Linked DNA regions of Homo sapiens. The protein of the gene in region 3 interacts with the protein of the main gene of each other region in a pairwise test. Each region holds a gene or a part of one and is shown on either strand. Other genes may lie near its edges.

Region 1 (3,532 bases), on a different chromosome or scaffold from region 3:
AGAATATAGGGGAGGGATCTCAGGCTCTCGGGAGGCCACAGTGTCCTCCTCCCACCCTATGGTCCCCGACAGTCGCCCCTCTACACCCGGACAGCCCTTCCCCAGCAGCAGCCGTTCAGCCCCTGCCCTATTACCAGTGGGAAAGAGACTTGGAGGCTGGCAGATCCAAGTTCAAATCCCTTCTCCAACACTCCAACAGGCCTGCGGGCAAGCCACATCCCCTCCTCATCTGTCAGGTGGGCATGGGGCAGTACTCAGCCCATGGCAGTGCTGGGAAGTGGCATGAGCAAGGGACTTCAGGACTCATTAGCACTGGGGCTCTGATGTGGCCGTTTCACTAGCACGCATGGTTGCAGGAGTGTTCTGGGGGCTCTGGCCAACCAGTCCTCTGAGCTGCTTCCAGAGTTTCAGGCTGCATCAGGCAAGTTTCCGTTGTCATAACAACCTGCTGGCTCTCAGGCGCCTGGGCCTGAGGCTCTAAGGATGCTGCCGGCTACCGTGGGCTCACGGCCTGGACCTGCTCACCTACCAGCAGCCTGGACAACCTCTCCTGGAGGGGCTTCCGGCTCCTGGCACCGCAGCCCCTGCCTCTTGACTCATCTGATTCAGTCCTGCTTCCCAAGCCCATCCTGCGTGCCAAGCTCCGTGCTGTGCATGCGTCATCACCCCAAATCCCCACCCGCCTCTGTGCATCAGGACAGCCAAAGGCTCTATTTTCTGCTAAAAGAAGCAGGGTCTCAGAAAGGTGCAGTGACCCGTCGGAGGTCACATGGCTTGGGCATGTCAGGCCCAGGACAGAACCCCAAAGGTCAGGCACTCACACCCGTTTCCTCTCCAGATGCCCAAGCCCCTCTCCTGCTGCCTGGCACACACTGCCCCTGTGGTTGGAAAGCTGGCCCCTGCCAGCTCGGACAGAAGGGGCATGAGGCTGCCCACTGTCTGCTGGGATTGGAGCAGGAAGACCAGGCCACAGGATGTTGGGAGGACCCTGCCGAGTGGGCAGGCATGCCGGGCTTCTGCTGACAGTGCCAAACGTCACCTCGCTTCATTCTTACAGCAGGCCTGAAAGCTAGGAGCAGCTACCCCGCTTCACGGAGGAGGAAACTGGGCTCTGAGGGGTCTCGGGTAAACCCCCATGGTGCGGGCATGCGCCAGGGGCCGCAGCATAGGCCAGCAGAGGTGTGGTCACCTTCACCAACCTTCCCCTCGTCCCAGCACAGAAGTTTATTTTTTTTCCTTTCTTTCTTTTTTCTCTTTTGTTTTTGAGACAGGTCTCGCTCTGCTGCCAGGCTAGAGTGCAGTGGCGCGATCTCGGCTCACTGCAACCTCTGACTCCCCGGTTTAAGCGATTCTCCTGCCTCAGCCTCCCAAGTAGCTGGGATTACAGGCACGCACCACCATGCCCAGCTAATTTTTGTATTTTTAGTAGAGATGGGGTTTCTCCATGTTGGCCGGGATGGTCTTGATCTCCTGACCTCGTGATCGGCCCACCTCGGCCTCCCAAAGTGCTGGGATTACAGGCGTGAGCCACCGCGCCCAGTCAGAAGTGTCTATTATTATTCCCCTTTTGCAGTTGAGGACACTGAGGCTCTGGGAATCCGCACACTTGTGCTCCTAATCACCTGCCCCGCTGTCCCTGGATTTTCCACGCTGGCCTCAGAATCTCCAAGGGCAGCCATGGTCTTGATGTCTCCCAGTCCCCAGCACCCAACACAGGTGCCCCAGTTCTCTTCCTCAGATAGGACATGTACACAGCTGTCCAGGTCTTCCAGGGAGATCCCTGGGCAAGGACGCCCCTGTAGGAACCCCGGCTGGCCGCTGACCTTTCGAAGAGGTCTCACTGCTTCTTCCTTATTTCCTGAGTGGGTCTTCCAGGGCAAAGCGGGCCTGGAAAGGCCAAATAGCTGTTAGTTTGGGTTGGCTTTTCTCCCACCAAAGTCAAGGTGGGGTTAAGTCTCCCTGTCTGATCAGCCCCCTCCTGACCCTGCGCCTGCGTAGTATATGTCTCTGAAGCAGAGGGACATGGGGGTCTGTGAGCAAAACACTGGCATCTGGGAAATCAAGGCATGAGTGACCTGAAGCTTCACCCATTCAACCAACCGTCCTTCACCATCCACCCCTGTGACCGCTCACCCATTTACAGGTGCCATCCACGCACCAACACATCCTTCTGTCTCTGTGTCCCTCACCCGCTGATGGGCACTCATCTGTTCACTGGTCCTCTCACTCCCGTCTCCATCTGTCCGCCTGCCCATCCCTCCATGTCTGTCCATTCCTCTGTTACTTGTGTCTCGTATCCATGCATCCATTGCTTTGTATCCATTTGTGCACTGAGCTGCCTTCTCAGGCCTCTATCCACACATCCGTCAATATACACTCATCACCTATCCATGCACTCACTCTTCCAGTGTCCATTCATTCCTCTGTCCATCATTCATGGACATGTATTCAAGTATTCATCCACCCATCCCAACATCCAGGCACTACCTGTATCCATTTATGTATCCATTCCTTCATCCATCCATCCAAAGATCCTTCCATCCATTCATCTACCAATCTTGCCTTGTGTATCAGAAGTCTCCCTCCCTCCACCCATGTATCATCCATTGATATTTTGTTCTATCAATCCAGTCCTGTATCCATATCAACTTTTCCATCTGTCCACCCACCCATCCCTATCTTGCTACTTACATCCATCAACCTCTCCTCCCGTCCATCTATCCCTCTTTCTCTCTTTCTTTCTTTCTTTTCTTTTTTTCTTTCTTTCTCTCTCTCTCTTTCGTTTTTCTTCCTTTTTTTTTTTTTTTTTGATGGAGTCTCACTCTGTTGCCCAGGGGCTGGAGTGTAGTGGCACGATCTCGGCTCACTGCAACCTCACCTCTGCCTCCTGGGTTCAAGCAATTCTCCTGTCTCAGCCTCCCAAATGGCTGGAACTACAGGTGCACACCACCACACCCACCTAATTTTTTTTGTATTTTTATAGAGACGGGGTTTCACCATATTGGTCAGGCTGGTCTTGAACTCCTGACCTCAGGTGGTCCACTCACCTTGGCCTCCCAAAGTGCTGGGATTACAGGCGTGAGCCGCTGCGCCCAGCCTATCCCTCTAGGTTTCTACCCATCCATCCGCTGCTCTATCCTGCTAGTGCTTCCCTTCCATACAGTATCATCCACCCATGCATCCCCTTCAGCATGCCTGCGTTGCTTCTCCACCTCATGCACCTCTTAATCCCAGCATGCACCCACTGTGGGATGACCAGGCTTCCATGTCTGGCTTCCCCAGGCAAAGCCCAGGCCTGACCCATCTCCATCCCTGACTTGGGCTCAGGGCTTGCTGATTGAACCAATGACTGCAATTCCCCTGCTTGGCTCAGAGCTGGGCCCTGGCTGATCCCCACCCCAGGCAGACCACAGAGGCTGCTGTACTGTCCTCCAGACTCAAGGCCTGCTGAGGCAAGGGCCACTTTTGAGTTCCCTTCCTGGCTAGAGGGGAGAGAAGAGCCCCAGCAGCTCCTGACTCCTGCCGTACTGGC
Region 2 (3,532 bases), on a different chromosome or scaffold from region 3:
AAACTTCTGCTCTTTGAAAGACACTCAAGAAAGTGAAACATATATATATTGAATAGAAAAAAGTATGTTAAAGCTTATATCTGATAATAGGTTATATCCAGAATATACAAATAATTTTTACAACTCCCTATCAAAAACATAAACAATAAGAAACAGGGGGAAATGTGAACAGGCAATTCACCAAGGAAAATACATGGATGGCAAATACACACACAAAAAAGACGCTCAATGCCATTAATCATGAGGAAAATGCAAATTAAAACCACAATGAAGGCTGGGAACAGTGGCTCAGGCCTGTAATCCCAGCAATTTGGGAGGCCGAGGCAGACGGACCACTTAAGTCCAGGAGTTCGAGACCATCCTGGCCAACATGGTGAAACCCCATCTTTACTAAAAATACAAAAATTAGCCAGGCGTGATGGCGTGCTCCTGTAATCCCAGCTACTTGGGGGGCTGAGGCAGGAGAATCAGTTGAACCCGGGAGGCGGAGGTTGCAATGAGCTGAGATTACGCCACTGCAGTCCAGCCTGGGTGACAGAGAGAGACTCCGTCCAAAACACACACACACATACACACACACACACAGACACACACACAGAGATCCCACTGGAAGGACTAAGATTAAACAGGGGGCTGGAAGCTGGGAGAGGACATGGTGCATCTGGGGCTCTCACACTTTGTTGGTGGGACTGCAAGATCACACAGCCACTCCAAGGAGACAGTGGGGTCCTTTCTTGCACAGCTGAACATGCATCCACCATGGGAACCTGCAACCGACTCCTACATGTCTACCCAAGAGACATGGGAGGATTAACACTGGAACATTCCCAGCAGGTTTATTCTTAACCGTCCCAAACTGAAAAAGACCCAAATGTCTGTGAACTGGTGAGCAGATACCCGAGTTGAAGTGTATCCATGCAACAGCATATACTACTCAACCATGAAAAGGAACGGGCGACTAATGCATGCTCCAACGGGGGTGACTCAAAACCTTCGCTCGGTAAGAAATCCAGGCAGAAGAGACCATGCACTGCACCATTCCACCCCTAACATTTCTAGAAAAGGCAAAATAACAGTGGCAGGAATGAAATCAGGGATTGTCATCAGGACGGGAAGAAGGGATTGGCTGGGGTTGGGCGACACAAGGGGCTTTTGTGGTGGCAGAAATGTCCTCTATCCTGATTGTGGGGGTGGCACATGGCTGGGTGCCCTTGTCAAGACCTGTTGAATTGTACCCTTCAATCGGTGACATTTATTGCATATAAATTAGCCTCAATAAAGTTAATTTAAAAGTACCTGCGTACTCTTCCGCGCAAATGTGTTGGAACAGACACTTAGTGCCATAAACAGTCACAGCAAGGATCTGCCGCTGAGCACTGAGGGGTAATGGGAGGTTCTGGGGCAAGAAGAGCTTTTGAGGACTCCATAAGGACAGAGGCGGGGACGGTGGGAAGGAGTGGGCAGTGTGGGTGGAAGGCAGGGGCTTGGGGACAGCGAGGGGGAGGCCTGCAGCAGGGGCGCGGCTCTGGAGAACAAGGGAGCAGGGGCTGTGGGGAGCGGTCGCTGCAGGGTTGGACGGATGCTAGGCCAAGGTGGGGCCAGCGGCACGGGTTCCCAGGTGAGTGGGGCTGGGACCGGATGGGAGGGAGTGACCTCCCCATCACGTGGAGGCTGAGTTGATGACGATGGGAAGAGCAGCGGGGGCCAAAAAGGGAGGGACGGCCCGGCACGCCGTGCACTCGATGCCCAACGGGCCCCCATTTAAGGTAAGCATTTGTTTAACTGCACCGTGACACACAGTATTTTCTGAATTTAAGTTGAACTCAGTTCAACAAATGTTTATGAACTGTCTACGGAGGAGAGGCACTGAAGTGCAGCGATGACTCAACGCGTACTTGAGCTTCAAAAGGCTGCCAGGTAAACAAGTAATTATATAACGGTTCCATGCTAGCAGTCATCACGAGATGCACCCCAGAAAGTGAGTAACTCTTGGTGAACAGAAGGCCAGCACTGGGGCGCCTGTGTGATGGATCCCTGTCGGCAGAAGGAGTTGGGAGGGGGCCCAGAGAGAAGGGGTCCAGAGGGATGGGGGTCCCAGAAGGAGGGGTCCCAAAGGGAGGGGGTCCAGAGGGAGGGTGGTCCCAGAGGGAGGAGTCCCGGAGGGAGGGGGGCCCAGAGGGTGGGGTCCCTGAGAGAAGGAGGCCCAGAGGGAACCAGATACACAGGCCACAGGGCAGGAAGTTCCCGGCAGAGCTATGAGAAGCTGGCCTACTCCGTCCTGTTCATAAGACACTACTTTAATTTCCTTTCATTTATTCTCATGTCAGAATAAGTCAATGAACCAAAATTGATAAATTCCATGTCTCTTAGGATGGTGTTTTGCACGTGTTAGGTATAAACAATGTACAATTCTAGATAATGACAAATTTAATGTCACTGTGGTTAAGAATCAGGATTCTCCATAAAAACGGTGGTTGTCAGGTTCACCTGTATGCCAGCCACAGTCATTGAAAATGATTCGGCCTTCCCCAAGCCACTGTTTTCACAGGAAAAACTGTGTGAATTGTTTTAAGGAAACTGTTTTGGTGACAGATTGGCGTGGGTATCACCTCAACGTGTAAAGAATCCTGTTCACAACTTGCTCTATCATCTCAGATCTCAGGCAGCAGTCACCAGCTCCTTGGAGAAACAGGCTGCAGATTTTCTATTAAGAAAATGTTGATGTGAAGACACTAAGAAGTTTTTTAGTAGATATTTCTGTTCCTTCTTTAATGAACTGAGAATAAGACACCCTGTTATCTACGAGTGGCAGATGAGAGATGCAGGGAAATGTGCTGAGCCCTGTGTCCAGTTCTTGGTGAACCAGTGAACCTACCCTTGCAAAGCAGCCACCTGCAACACATCTCACACTGTCTCTTTGAGGTTCAGCACTTCCTATCTCACACGTGGTCCCTATGACCACCATTCTCACCAGATCTCACTTTGATGTCATTAAATCACATGTAAAATACATTCAGCTCAACTGATTCTTAAAGTGTAATTTTCTTGTCTTTGGAATTTAGATATTTCCCAAACAAGTGGGCAGAGGAATACTTCTAGAGCTTCTGTAGGACACACTGTTCTTTGGAGGAGGAGTTTCAGGGGCTCTAAGAAAAAGTCATCTAATGACACACTTTAGAAATGTCATTTGACTCAATTCGGTTTTGCAGTTAAGAGGCTTCTTTTCCAATATTCAGCTGCCTCAAGTAAAGTGTCGATTGTTGCTGTCTCAGTAACTCATTGTCACCCCCCACCTGAATGTTAGCCTCTCACAGGACCCGGGGTACCCTGTAGGGCGGGCACACTATGGCATGACACCAAATGAGAGACTCATCATGTCTCATCCCCTGAGTATCTCCTTCACCAGGAAGGCATATCTCATTGACTGAGCTTTATCACATGTTCTGAAGACAAGAGAAAGCAGAATTTCTTGATTCCTGTTTGGCACCTCTCTACTCTTTTTTAAAAAAAGCATTTCAAAAATATTCAGGGA
Region 3 (2,363 bases):
AGGGACTACAGCCCTGAGGGGCTGCTCCATGCGGCATTCTTGGAGGTCCAAGAGGGGCAGCGCCACCTTGGGCCAGGCTCCTCTCCAGCAGCCTTGGTATGGGGTGGGGGTGGGAAGACCCCTGATGCAGCCTGTCCTCTGGGTGTGGGGGTGGAGGAGAGGGCTCCAGGGGACCCAGCCAGCCTTGACCCTGGAGGAAAGTCAGGTGGGCTCAGAGAGAGCCCTCAAATCTGGGCCCTGGGTCAGGGTGGGGTCAAGTCCAGCCTTGAAGAGAATGGACTCTGGAATCTGACGTCTGGGTTTGAATCCAGCTTCCAACACTCACTGGCTGTGTGACTTTGGGCAAGATAACTTATCCCCTTGTCCCCATGTGTCATTGGAGATAAACTACCCACCTACCAGATTGTTGTACCATGCTGGGCAAACACTAAGTGCTTAATAATGGTAGCCCACTGCTCATGTCGTGTCGTCTCCTGTCTTGATACCTGAAAACTCAAGGGGCCCTGTTGTGCTTGGAGGGGGGTGCCGTTCCCACAGGATATTCTGTGAAGGGTGTCCCTGGAGCTGGGCCTCCAGGTGGCAAGCCCCAAGCCACCCCGGCAGGTGCCACTGGCCAGAGTTGAACTGAGGTGTTGAGTGGAAAGTGCCTCCCCACCCCCATCTGCCACAGTAGTATGGATTTCCTTCATGAGATGGGGCTCCTAAAATGCCTGAAATGTGTATGCTGTTGGAGAATTGATGTGTATGATTTATTGAACTTTGCACTCATTTAAATCTCATTTAATCCTCCAACAACGCAAGATGAAGAAGCTGAGGCTTAAAGAGATTAAGAAACATCCTATCCCCTTTACTCCCACCAAAATAAATACATTTGCCCTATTCTCCCAAATGGTGAGAGGTAGATCCAGGACTTGACCCCAGATCCCACCCACTCAACCCTGGAGCTGCAGTCTCTACCCCTTCTAACACATGTGATTCTGTTTCATGTCCTGTTCCATCGGTAGAGTTACACACTTTCCTGAGACTTTATATGGTGGTGCTGCTGGGTGCCAGCCCTTCTTCCCTCCAACAGTGGCAGTAACCACTGTTGTGTGTTGGTGTCAAGGAGTGGGGACACCCTGAAGGAATCCGCCTTTTCTAGAGCTCTCGCTCCATTCCCTACATCGAGGCTGAAGTGCCCTGTCTCGGGTCCTTGTTTTTAGGCCTCGTTTGAAGGAGGGGAAGAAACCAGGTTCGTTGGGCGTGACCTTGGCTCAGCTCGTCTGTGAAATTGGGGCCGCAGACTTAGTTTGCGGGTCCCTGCTAAATTCCTCTCCCTCTTCCTGGGATTCCCATCCATGTATTGCCAGCTACATGTAGAGTGGAGAGGAGAGGTTTTTCCTGCAGGGCCTTCCAGAGAAAGGATTCTTGGCCAGAGGAAATCACAGCCTATAAGATCAATATCCTGATAGAATCCCGGGCCAGGTGTGAGAGGGGAGAGCTCACTCACACCAGCCTGACAGTCTTGGGGCAGAGCGCCCCATAGGCCTCTGCAGCCCCATCACTGCCTCATTCTCCCTCAGGTGCCAAGGAAGCTCCAGGGTGGGCCCAGTATCCTTCCACAGCATCCCTCCTCTTCCCCTTCAACACCCCTTTCACCCCTCCCTCCACCACCTCTGAAAGGTGCTCCTTGGGCAGGGCGATAGGATTCCCACCCCTAGCTTTAAGAACTAAACCAAACTTCAAGAGGAGCAATTTAATCTTCATACCTGACTCCTTGTCCCTCCTCAGGCATGCTGTTGTGCAGGACAGAGCCCTGGCTTCTCCTGGATGTCACACCTGGCCTGTCTCTGACCCTTGCTTTCCCTTTCTCTGCTGCCCTCAAGGGTCATTCACACCCAAGAGGGTAAGAAGCTGCCCTCTCATCCCTTCCTCTCCCACCCTGGGCCTCTGCCCTCTGCCTGGCCCCAGCAGCACAGTCTTCTCCATAGAGAGGGGCTGGGCCATGGGACCCCAGTTCCTGGGGTCTCGGTGACACAGTTCACTGTTTGCTGCAGAGGAGGCCCCACTCGCAGCCTTGGCCTCTGCCCTGCAGAAGAATTCCCTGTAACTCACTCACCAATGGCCGTGGGAGCCAGTGGCCTCGGCGAGGGTCAGTTGGACTGCATAGCTGCCGGCTGAGTCTCTCTGGCCACCCTCACTGGCCCCATCACTCCAGGTTGCACTGCTGCCCAGGGGGTTTGTGCCAGGCCTGGGTCACAGTGGAAGAGAGTCTGGAAATCACAAGGCAGAGGAGGAGACCTTTGCCAATGTGAGAGAACAAAGTTAAGGGGCAGTCCATGGGGGCATTGACCTTACTTAGGTGAGGAGGACTCAGGGAACAT

What was found. The genes of interacting proteins can lie anywhere in the genome.
Region 1: the proteins of QSOX1 (region 3) and BEGAIN interact in a two-hybrid assay, tested with the Homo sapiens proteins (one large-scale study listed by BioGRID and IntAct).
Region 2: the proteins of QSOX1 (region 3) and CCR6 interact in a two-hybrid assay, tested with the Homo sapiens proteins (one large-scale study listed by BioGRID and IntAct).

The regions. Positions count from the first base shown.
Region 1 is NC_000014.9:100,580,901-100,584,432, forward strand, and holds part of BEGAIN (brain-enriched guanylate kinase-associated protein), read right to left. Parts: intron 1-3,532. UniProt on the Homo sapiens protein: May sustain the structure of the postsynaptic density (PSD).
Region 2 is NC_000006.12:167,129,581-167,133,112, reverse strand, and holds part of CCR6 (C-C chemokine receptor type 6), read right to left. Parts: intron 1-3,532. UniProt on the Homo sapiens protein: Receptor for the C-C type chemokine CCL20. Binds to CCL20 and subsequently transduces a signal by increasing the intracellular calcium ion levels.
Region 3 is NC_000001.11:180,199,837-180,202,199, forward strand, and holds part of QSOX1 (sulfhydryl oxidase 1 isoform a precursor), read left to right. Parts: 3' UTR 1-2,363. UniProt on the Homo sapiens protein: Catalyzes the oxidation of sulfhydryl groups in peptide and protein thiols to disulfides with the reduction of oxygen to hydrogen peroxide. Plays a role in disulfide bond formation in a variety of extracellular proteins.